3 linked regions of the Homo sapiens genome follow. The protein of the gene in region 1 interacts with the protein of each later gene in a biochemical or structural test. Each region holds a gene or a part of one and is shown on either strand. Other genes may lie near its edges. The genes, in order: SENP8, AKIP1 and CUL2.

Evidence for each region.
Region 2: the proteins of SENP8 (region 1) and AKIP1 form a complex in vitro, tested with the Homo sapiens proteins (one study listed by BioGRID).
Region 3: of the proteins of SENP8 (region 1) and CUL2, one has a biochemical effect on the other in vitro, tested with the Homo sapiens proteins (one study listed by BioGRID).

The regions. Positions count from the first base shown.
Region 1 is NC_000015.10:72,135,301-72,139,127, forward strand, and holds part of SENP8 (sentrin-specific protease 8), read left to right. Parts: intron 1-3,827. UniProt on the Homo sapiens protein: Protease that catalyzes two essential functions in the NEDD8 pathway: processing of full-length NEDD8 to its mature form and deconjugation of NEDD8 from targeted proteins such as cullins or p53.
Region 2 is NC_000011.10:8,914,115-8,917,941, forward strand, and holds part of AKIP1 (A-kinase-interacting protein 1), read left to right. Parts: intron 1-711; coding exon 712-816; intron 817-3,172; coding exon 3,173-3,253; intron 3,254-3,827. UniProt on the Homo sapiens protein: Enhances NF-kappa-B transcriptional activity by regulating the nuclear localization of the NF-kappa-B subunit RELA and promoting the phosphorylation of RELA by PRKACA.
Region 3 is NC_000010.11:35,083,742-35,087,341, forward strand, and holds part of CUL2 (cullin-2), read right to left. Parts: intron 1-3,600.

The sequences.
Region 1 (3,827 bases):
ATCCGCCCACCTCATCCTCCCAAAGTACTGGGATTACAGGTGTGAGCCACCATGCCCAGCCTCAGAGAAGCACACTTTGTGAGAAATAATAGAAAGAAGCCTGGGCTGCTGGTAGGTGTTAAAAAAAAAAAAACTCTGGACTATAAAAAATAAAAATAGAAAATATTTTCACTTTACAGAAAAGGAAAGTGAGAGTTAAGGAAATTTAGTAATTTATTTATGATCACACAGCCAATGAGTAACAGAATTGAATCTAAAATTTAAGTCTTCAAATACGAAGTTTAGAGTTATTTTTGGCAAAGGGTGGGTTTGGCTAAAGGCTAGTTGAGTTCTATTTGCATTAGAATTTTTGGAGTTAAACTTGCTGTCATGCTGTATGGAACAGAATTAAGGCCTTGATTAACATTTTGTCTATGTGCTTGGTATTTTAAAAATCAAACAGACAAAACACAAAAACTATTTCTGAAGAAAATCTTAGCCCAGCTTGTGGACATTCCCTTCAAGGTGAGAGATGACTGACTGTTGAGGCAGTCTTCTTGCAGGTTCCTTTCCCTAGTTGGGTTGGTGTTGAAGACTGGGTGTGATTTCAGCAGGCAGTGTAGAGAGTAGGTCTCCGGGTTTTTGCCAAGCTATATGACCTGGCACTCACAAGTATGCAGTGTTTATTGAAGACATGAGAGACAGATGCTGTAGCCAGGGAGCAGTCATTCTGCCTTTATATTATAAACTCTTACATCAAGTCACATCGACAAGCTGATTACCTAAACTCTGTCAAATTGCTTTTGTTTGATTGATCTGTGCCCATTTGCCATAAGGCTAGATAGTAAAGATTATTATAGGAAACAATCCTGTCTGTTTCATCTGTTGTAAGGATACTGTGAGGCACTATTTGTTATGATGCACCATGTCTTTTATGAAAATCTCTTGAGAAAAAACTATCGGACTATAATACAAAGAATTATTTTACCTCTCCTGAGCAATTGCTTTGTTTTTGTCTTATGGACATTGTGAATGTTTACCTTTCTCTGGCCAGATGCCAAAAAGCTTAGAGCCAAATTTGTGGCCCACCCATAACAAATGTGCTCTATGCCTCATTAACTTCATTCTTGGCTCCAGTTTATGTCTCTCCACTAGTCTTTTTTTCTTAAGAAGATCCTAATTCATGCCATCTTATTATATATTTTTTCTTTTTTCTCATAAGTAGCCTTATGTTGTTTCTCAAATAGTCAGATTATGACATACTGTGTCTACATAAAACCATGTTGGATGCCCCTTCATTTACTTTGGCTTTTTTTCTTGAGGGGTGTATTGATTTTTCATATAGGTTTTTGCAGCGTTTTGTTACACGAAAATGGTTATATCACAAAAATTATTGCTTAATAGTGTAGACAAGTGGTAAAATAACTGGTCTAATGGTCAGAATTGATTAAATTGATGTCATAATTCTAGTCTTGTCTTTTACAGCATTATTACTATTTTCTTATAATATGCTTTGTTTTGCACTCTCAATCTGCATGTGACAGTTTATTGCTGTGTGATTTTCAGAAATATTGTCGTGCTGCCAGGTCACTGCATAACAGCTAACTCTCTGTTAACTCTGTTGAGTCTGTTAGGCTCAAATATTCTACACCCATCAGACTTGTCTCACTTTGGGTGGTCACAGGCATATTAATTTCATCACACAACTTGTCTTGCTTCTCCTCTAAATTAGTCATTCTTTTATTTAGACAAGATAATGTGAATGGATATTTGTTTTCAAACCTCATTTTCTTTGATTGGTTTGGAGCTCTAGCTGGATTTTCTGATTATCTTACTAATGTCATCTAATTGATAAATATTATTGTACAACTTTTTAAACTCTTTTAGTACTTCCAAGTAAAATTATTTGGTCTTCTCTACAACTCTCTAGGGTATGTAAGGTGGGTATATGCCTTTTTTACAGATGGCATACAAAAATGATTAAATGATTTTATATGCCATCTGTAAAAAAGGCGTATACCTTTTTAGAAAAACAAGGACAAAGTCATTTAAATGACTGCTCAAGATGATACCAGCAAATCAGTGGTAAAACTAGGACTAGACCCAGGTTTCCAGAATCTTATCCCATACTACCTTTTAAAAGAAGTCAAAAGAAGTTCTAACTTATATTGTAAACATTACTTCATCTTTATCATACCCCTTGAAGCTAAAGCTATGAAACAGGCAAACACATGTTATATCACTCATGCTCATAGCAGGGCAGAATCAGGAATGAATTTCATTTGTATTAGTCTCATGATTCTCTGTTTTTAAAATTACAGTTCCTTTTAACTACTACCGTAATCACTGTCACGTTCCATTATGGAAGGAGGAAGCAATATTTTATCTTATCTTTTGAAAATTAATGTTGAGGCCAGGCGCGGTGGCTCACGTCTGTAATCCCAGCACTTTGGGTGGCTGAGGTGGGTGGATCACGAGGTCAGGAGATCGAGACCATCCTGGCTAACACAGTGAAACCCCGTCTCTACTAAAAATACAAAGAATTAGCCGGGTGTTGTGGCGGGCGCCTGTAGTCCCAGCTACTTGGGAGGCTGAGGCAGGAGAATGGTGTGAACCCGGGAAGCGGAGTTTGCAGTGAGCCAGGATCGCGCCACTGCACTCCAGCCTGGGTGACAGTGCGAGACTCCATCTCAAAAAAAAAAAGAAAAAGAAAATTAGTGTTGAAATGAAAAGTATTTCCCTTGGAAATTAGTAACTTTTTAGATTCTTTGAATTCATCTTTAATATAAAAATAATTTGTTGTCATTATGCATATTCATTAAGGAGCCAAATAATACAGTTAATGGTATGGTGTTTGGTAAAACATTAGCTATAATTTTAATCTCTGTGCTTCAAGAGGATATTTAAAATTCATGCTTACTGTGTACATGGCAAGTTTCCAGTTCTCATTCTAACTAATCGTTTACATGTAGCACATAAGCTAGAATTTCTTATAGTTACAGTTGACCCTTGAACAACACAGGGGCTAGGAGTGCCAACCCCCGTATGCAGTCAAAATTCTAGGTATAACTTTTTTTTTTTTTTTTTTGAGATGGAGTCTTGCTCTGTTGCCCAGGCTGGAGCGCAATGGCATGATCTCAGCTCACTGCAACCTCCACCTTCCAGGTTCAAGCAGTTCTCCCACCTCAGCCTTTCGAGTAGCTGGGATTACAGGCATGCCCCACCACGCCCGGCTAATTTTTGTATTTTTAGTAGAGATGGGGTTTCACCATGTTGGCCAGGCTGGTCTCAAACTCCTGACCTCAAGTGATCTGCCCACCTTGGCCTCCCAAAGTGCTGGGATTTCAGGCGTGAGCCACAGCACCCAGCCTAGGTGTAGGATTTGACTCCCTAAAAAAATACGCCAGGTGCGGTGGCTCACGCCTGTAATTCCAGCACTTTGGGAGGCTGAGGCGGGCGGATCACAAGGTCAGGAATTCGAGACCAGCCTGGCTGATATGGCGAAACCCTGTCTCTACTAAAAATACAAAAAAAAATTAGCCGGGCATGGTGGCACATGCCTGTAATCCCAGCTACTCAGGAGGTTGAGTCAAAAGAATCGCTTCAACCCAGGAGGCAGAGGTTGCAGTGAGCTGAGATCGTGCCACTGCACTCCAATCTGGGCGACAGAGTGTGACTCCATCTCAAAAAAAAAAAAAAAAAAAAACTTTACTACCAATAACATAGCCAATTAACAATAACATAGCCAATTAATACATGTTTTGTAAATGTATTATATACTGCATAATATATACCTTACCAATAACATAGCCAATTAACACGTTTTGTAAATGTATTATATACATTTA
Region 2 (3,827 bases), on another chromosome or scaffold:
CAGCTTCTCGTTCTTCTGGTCACATGTTTTTTAGACAGTGTGCCTACCCTGTTCAAAACAAGCAGGGCTGTGATGTCATTAGTCATTATCAAGGGCAAGTCTAAGGCTAACTTTGAGGGGGAGGAAGGAAGCAGACAAGAGAAATGTAACTGTTTTCCGATCTTTCGGAAGATTCTTCTTAAATTAGAGACTTCTCCCTCCACTCCCCCACGCGCAGGAAGCACAGAGAAAAGGGCTGCAGAGCAGCTCTTGGGTTTGTTTCATTTCCTGCTGTGTTTCTAAATCTCAGGAAAATGTACCCCTCTCTTCCCGTGTCCTGGTCTGAGACTTAGACAATAAACATGGAACCGTTCATCCACATTTTTTAGGGGAGGAAATGAAAGGATATGTGCATTGGACATGGGGGCAAAGATGTGAAATTTGTTTAACCTGGCAGAGAGCATGGTCCTGCCCACCTTTAGTTAGCCAGCGTTCTTGCCCTATGGAGGCAGCAGGTGGCAGCACGGGGATGCCAAATGCATTTCTTTCTCTGCAGCCACTTTGGGTGGGCTAAGGTTTGTTGCATGACTTCAGAGGCCTGTCAAGAGGGCAGGTAATTCACCTTTGCTCTCTTGCCTCCCTCCTTAACTGCACTTTGCCCAAATATCAGGGTTTTTTGAAAATTTGACAAGACAATTTGGTTAGCTAACATCTTTGACATTACGTCTCTAGAAATATTATTCATCTGTGCCAGAGGAAGGAGGGGCAACCCATGTCTATCGTTATCACAGAGGCGAGTCGAAGCTGCACATGTGCTTGGACATAGGGAATGGTCAGGTAAGTGTACTCAACTGTCCTGCACCATGCCTTCAGTCTACCAAGATATGACACCCTATATTCAAGAGCCCCTGCTAGACTTTGTGTCACTGGATGCCCGTGTGACTTGGCATTACAGTGCTTAACAGAAATGTGTAAATTCATAGCCTTAGAGAACTTACAGCAATGAACATGAAATAGGAGGTTGTCAAAAATATAAGATTGATGCCACTGTAGGATCTTTAGTTGAACCTGCAGTCCTGGGCCATGGGATTCTCCAGCAGGTTTAAAGAAAAGAGCTTCCAAGCCTGGAATGTGGTGTATGCAATGATCGCCCCTGTGACTATCCCCTGCATTCTATCCTGGGCAACATAGACCCTTTCTCTAATTTTTTTTTAAAAGAGCTCTAAATATCCTCTTCTACATCTAGGGATAGGATTTTTTTTTTCTTTTTTTTTTTTTTTTTTTTTTTGAGACAGGGTCTTACTCTGTCACCCAGGCTAGAGTGCAGTGGAGCAATCATGGCTTACTGCAGCCTTGACTTCCTGGGCAGGTGATCCTCCCACCTGAACCTCCCAAGTAGCTGGGACTACAGGCACATGCCACCACACCCAGCTAATTTTTAATGTTTTTAATAGAGATGGGGTTTTGCTATGTTGCCCAGGCTGGGGGAAAAGATTTTTAATAATTACATTTTTTACTATAAGGTGATAACTGTCATGTCTTTGGTAATTTTTTTTTTTTTTTGAGAGGGAGTCTCACTCTGTCACCCAAGGTGGAGTGCAGTGGTGCGATCGCGGCTCACTGCAACTTCTGCCTCCCAGGTTCAGACAATTCTGCCTCAGCCTCCCAAGTAGCTGGGACTACGTGCACACACCACCAGCCCAGCTAATTTTTGTATTTTTCTTTCTTTTTTTTTTTTTTTTTTTGTGGAGTCACAGTCTTGCTCTGTTGCCCGGGCTGGAGTGCAGTGGCACAATCTCAGCTCACTGCAAGCTCTGCCTCCCTGGTTCACGCCATTCTTCTGCCTCAGCCCCGAGTAGCTGGGACTACAGGCGTTGCCACCACGCCTGGCTAATTTTTTGTATTTTTAGTGGAGACGGGGTTTCGCTGTGTTAGCCAGGATGGTCTCGATCTCCCGACCTCGTGATCCGCCTGCCTCGGCCTCCCAAAGTGCTGGGATTACAGGTGTAACCCACCGCGCCTGACCCATTTTTGTATTTTTTAATAGAGACAGAGTTTCACCGTGTTGGCCAGGCAGGTCTTGAACTCCTGACCTCAGGTGATCTGCCTGCCTCAGCCTCCCAAAGTGCTGAGATTACAGGCGTGAGCCACCATGCCTGGCCCCTGTCTTTCATAATTTTTAAAAAGAAAGTACAAGGGAAGTGTGGGGACGGGGGTCTCTTTTAACAAAATACTTTTTGTAAAGGTAATAACAGTTACGGGCCTCTCACTACAAACTTACCTTTTACCACATGTCATTCTGGGGAAGCCAAAGATTCTGCTTATTGAACTGATTCAAAGGAGGAGGTGGTGGTGGTGGTTTCTGAGGAGACTAGGTTTTTGCTTTTGTTTTAACCTACCCTACTTGTACTCAAAGATAGCAAACTGAAGTCCAGAGTCTATTCCAGAGTCTAAGTTGGATTCCTGACTTCTTTGGTCTGTCAGCCATTTTGGGGTGTTAGAGGGAGGAAGTTTAGGAAAAGGATGGGAGAGTGGGCACAGGGACATGAGCAAGGGCTGAGTGCACACTCGAAGCACCTCCCACATGCCTCCCCTGGCCTGGGAGGTGAGTAGTGGTGCCAGAGCTTGAGTCCTGAGCCCCCTTTTCTGGCCTAGCCTGAACTCTTACCTAAACGCACCTGACCCTAAAGGGTGCACTTAGGTACATGTGGGGAAGAGTCGTTCCCATCTCTCCCTTTAAAATGTAAGTTCCCTCTAAGGGAAATTGGCTTTATCAGTCAGCCTGTTCCCTTCTAGGACCACCCCCACTCCTAGAAGAAGCACAGAAGAGAATGTATTGAGAGCCTAAGTGCCACTTTTGCACTTTAAATTTTCCCTGCAATCCAAGAGTGCCATGTTACAGACTGGAAAACCAAGGTTCAAGAGAAGTTAATCTGTCTTAGTAAATAGCAGAGATAGGACTTAAACTCAGGCGTGGCTGATTCCAAAGCCCATGTAAGGATGAAAATTATAGTAAATACCTGACTAAAAATACCTCACAGAATTCACTTAAAAATGCCTTAATGACTTAGATGACAACTTAGAAAAAGCTGACAGAACAATTACTAACTCCTAATAAGGTAGAAGAGAACTTCTCTTTACAATCCAAAAGTGAAAGCTTGGGCACAAATCAGTGTTCTACTTGTCTCTTCAGAGAAAAGACAGAAAAAAGACATCCCTTGGTCCTGGAGGCAGCTATCAAATATCAGAGCATGCTCCAGAGGCATCCCAGCCTGTGAGTACGGAACTGCTTACGCACTGGGTTTCACCACCGTTGCAACTCCATGAACCAGTTGACATGGTTCTTAGAGGGCTATTTGAATTGAGTCTATAGTATTTTTAAGTTGAGATGTTCTTACACTTAAGAAGGGCACACAAGATTTTGGTTCAGTGTAAAATTAGGTTTTCTTGGTATTCTTCCTTCACTCTAAGCTTCAGGGATACTCTTTGTGCCTGAACTCATAGTTGTGGTTGGAAAGAATGTGAAGTATTCACCTCTCAGTTCCTACAGCTCAGCTGGGCTGGCACTGGGTCCTGCTGGAATTCCACCATCTGTTCAAGCAGCAGGAGGGGCACGATCCTCCTGCTAACAAAGTGAAAACCATTGCTGAAATTCCGAAACATACACATTTGGTGAGATCAGGTTCCAAAACATTTGAAGGCATTTGTTCTTATTTTCCACAAATGTTTCTCTGTAAAAACATATAATGAGTTTTTCATTTTTAGGATAAAGTACTCATTAGGTCATGAAGCCAGGGGATCCTTTTTGGAACTTGGAAGGGCTAGAATTCTGAGGAAAGGAACTTCAT
Region 3 (3,600 bases), on another chromosome or scaffold:
GCTGTAATCCCAACACTTTGGGAAACCAAGGCAAGAGGACTGCTTGAGCCAAGGAGTTCAAAACCAGCCTGGAGCATAGCCTGTACTTTCTCTCCTTCAACTGAATTAAAACAAGGCTGAGATATTTTTAAAAATTTACATATGGCAAATCCATGTTTCATTCTTTGAAAAGCAACCTACAATAGAGAAAGACTAAGTCACTGAATTAATAGATGTAACTAACATTATTTATAATGTTAAACTATATAAAAGAGGCCAGGCACAGTGGCTCACACCTGTAATCCCAGCACCTTGGAAGGCCAAAGAGGGCGGATCTCTTGAGGTCAGGAGTTCAAGACCAGCCTGGTCAACATGGCAAAACCCTATCTCTACTAAAAATATAAAAATTAGTCAGGTGTGGTGGCAGACACCTATAGTCCCAGCTACTTGGGAGGCTGAGGCAGGAGAATCACTTGAACCCAGGAGGCAGAGGTTGCAGTGAGCTGAGATCGCGCCACTGCACTACAGCTTGGGTGACGAGTGAAACTCTGTCTCAAACAAGCAAACAAGACACAGTATCAGTCTGAATTTTTAATTCTCCAGAATAACAAAGCTTAAAGCAAAAGGAAATATTCCACCTCTCCTCCTCCAAAAGAAAAATCAACAGGGTTCAAGGCACCCCGGAAGTTTCTACAGATCCAACACCACAATCTTAACCTAACACTACTACTGTCTCAAAACTTTTAAGAATCAAAGGGATTGTCTCCAATAAGCCTTTCCCAATGAAAAGCCAAATATAAAGTACTGATATAGAAATCTATACATTCTTAAAGGTAACCCAAAGATTATGCTAACTGCAATATGACAGATACGTTACCAGTAAGATTCAAACCCAGGCACAGAGCCAAATCACTCTGAATAGATATTGTGATTAACTGATTACTGAGAGAGGGTTCAGTCATACATCTCATAGATCAATAACTTGTTATAAATCTCATAACATTCCAAATCGCTGCTTGTTTTTCCAAGATTTAACATGAGCCAGTCATAAGTCCTCATAATATTAAGATTCTAGGGCTGATCCTGTCATCAATTTACTTAAAAACAACTGATAGTTGGACAGGCCTGGTGGCTCACACTTGTAATCCCAGCACTTTGGTAAGCCGAGGCAAGTGAATCATGAGGTCAGGAGTTCAAGACCAGCCTGGCCAACATGGTGAAACCCCGTCTCTACTAAAAATACAAAAAAATTAGCTGGGGGTGGTGGTGGGCGCCTGTAATCCCAGTTACTTGGGAAGCTGAGGCAGGAGAGTCTCTTAAATGCCAGAGGCGGAGAATGCAGTCAGCCGAGATTGTGCCACTGCACTCCAGCCTGGGTGACAGTGTGAGACTCCATCTCAAAAAATAATAATAATAAAAAATAACTGGCTGGGTGTGGTGGCTCACACCTGTAATCCCAGCACTCTGGGAGGCTGAGGCAGGCAGATCACAAGGTCAGGAGATTGAGACCATCCTGGCTAACACAGTGAAACCCCGTCTCTACTAAAAAAATACAAAAAATTAGCCAGGCATGGTGGCGGCTGCCTGTAGTCCCAGCTACTTTGGAGACTGAGGCAGGAGAATGGCGTAGACCCAGGAGGCAGAGCTTGCAGTGAGCTGAGATCGCGCCACTGCGCTCCAGCCTGGGCGACAAAGCGAGACACCGTCCCAAAAAAAAATAAAAATAAAAATAACTGTTAGGGCCAGGCGCGGTGTGGCTCACACCTGTAATCCCAGCACTTTGGGACACTGAGGAAGGCGGACCACAAGGTCAGGAGATCAAGACCATCCTGGCTAACACGGTGAAACTCCATCTCTATGAAAAATACAAAAAATTAGCCGGGCATGGTGGCAGGCGCCTGTAGTCCCAGCTACTCGGGAGGCTGAGGCAGAATGGTGTGAACCCGGGAACCAGAGACACAGCCAGACTCTGTCTCAAAAAAAAAAAAAAAAAAAAAACTGATAGTGCATATGAAACATTGCTTTCAATCACAGCCAGACATTTTTCCAGAATACACAAAGAACAGGCAGATAAGGTAGAACACAAAACAAACAGTGCAAACTTTTGTAAAGTCTCACAAAAAGAAACAGCTTTTTACAGCGAGGGAGGAAGGGCATAAGGGTTGAAAAACGGTTGGGTACTATGTTCAGCACCTGAGTGACGGGATCATTGTATCCTAAACCTCAGCATCACACAATATACCCGGGTAACAAACCTACGTGTGTACCTCCTGAATCTAAAATGAAAGTTGAAAAAGATAAAAATAAAGAAACAAGCAGCCTGGCCAACATAGTGAAACCTTGTCTCTACTAAAAATACAAAAATTAGCTGAGAGTGGTGGAGGGCGCCTGTAGTCCCAGCTCGGGAAGTGGAGGCTGCAGTGGGCTGAGATTGAGCCCCTGCACTCCAGACTGAGAGACTCTGTCTCAAAAAAAAAAAAGAAACAAGAAACAAGGCCGGGCACAGTGGATCACGCCTGTAATCCTAACACTTAGGGAGGCTGAGGTGGGAGAATTGTTTGAGCCCAGGAGTTCGAGACCAGCCTGGGCAACACAATGAAACTCTCTTAGTTCTGTCACCCAGGCTGGAGTATAGTGGCTCACTGCAGCCTCCACCTCCTGGGTTCAAGTAATCCTCTCACCTCAACCTCCCTAGCAGCTGGGATTACAGGCCTGCACCACCACACCTGGCTAATTTCTGTATTTTTTGTACAGACAGGGTTCGCCATGTTGCCCAAGCTGGTCTCAAGCTGCTGGGCTCAAGTGATCCACCCACCTCAACCTCCCAAAGTGCTGGGATTACAGGCCTGAGCCACCGTACGTGGCCGGAAACAGCTTTTTAAACAACTCCACACCTGTAGGTCAAAAACTTAACGAGACCAGCCTGGCCAACATGGTGAAGCCCCATCTCTACTAAAAATACAAACTCCAGCCTGGGTGACAGAGCGAACACCATCTCAAAATAAATAAATAAATAAATAAATGAACTTAACAAGGGCAGGGACCAAATCAGAAAATGCTGCAGTACTCCACAGTTTTATCCTCTTTCTACATTCTCTGTGTTCTCATCCTATTTCATAACTTAACTACTATTTAACACTCTAAAAAATACAAATGTCAAAGTAAAGTGTACTACTGTTTCTGCAAAGTGGGAACAATATTTGCTTATATGTCCACAAATATTTTTTTCCAAGGAGATCTAAGAAACAGCTAACAATGTTTGGCTCCAAGGAAAGCTGGATGACAAGGGTACAAGAAGTGGAGGGAGATTTTCATTCTATTCCCTACTGACAATTTTATATTTTGGTTTTCTGTTTGTTTTAGAGACAGGGTCTCACTCTGTCACTCAGGCTGGAGTGCAGTGGTGCAATCACAGATCACTGCCACTTCCAACCTGGTCATCTGGCCTCAGCTTCCCAACAGCGGGTACTACAGGCGTGCGCCACCACGCCTGGCTAATGTTTTTTAAATTATTTTTTGTAGACATGGGGTCTCACCATGTTGCCCAGACTAACATCTTAAATTTTGAGCCATGTGAATACAGTTTTTGTTCAAAACATTAGTATACCAATAAATAAATGC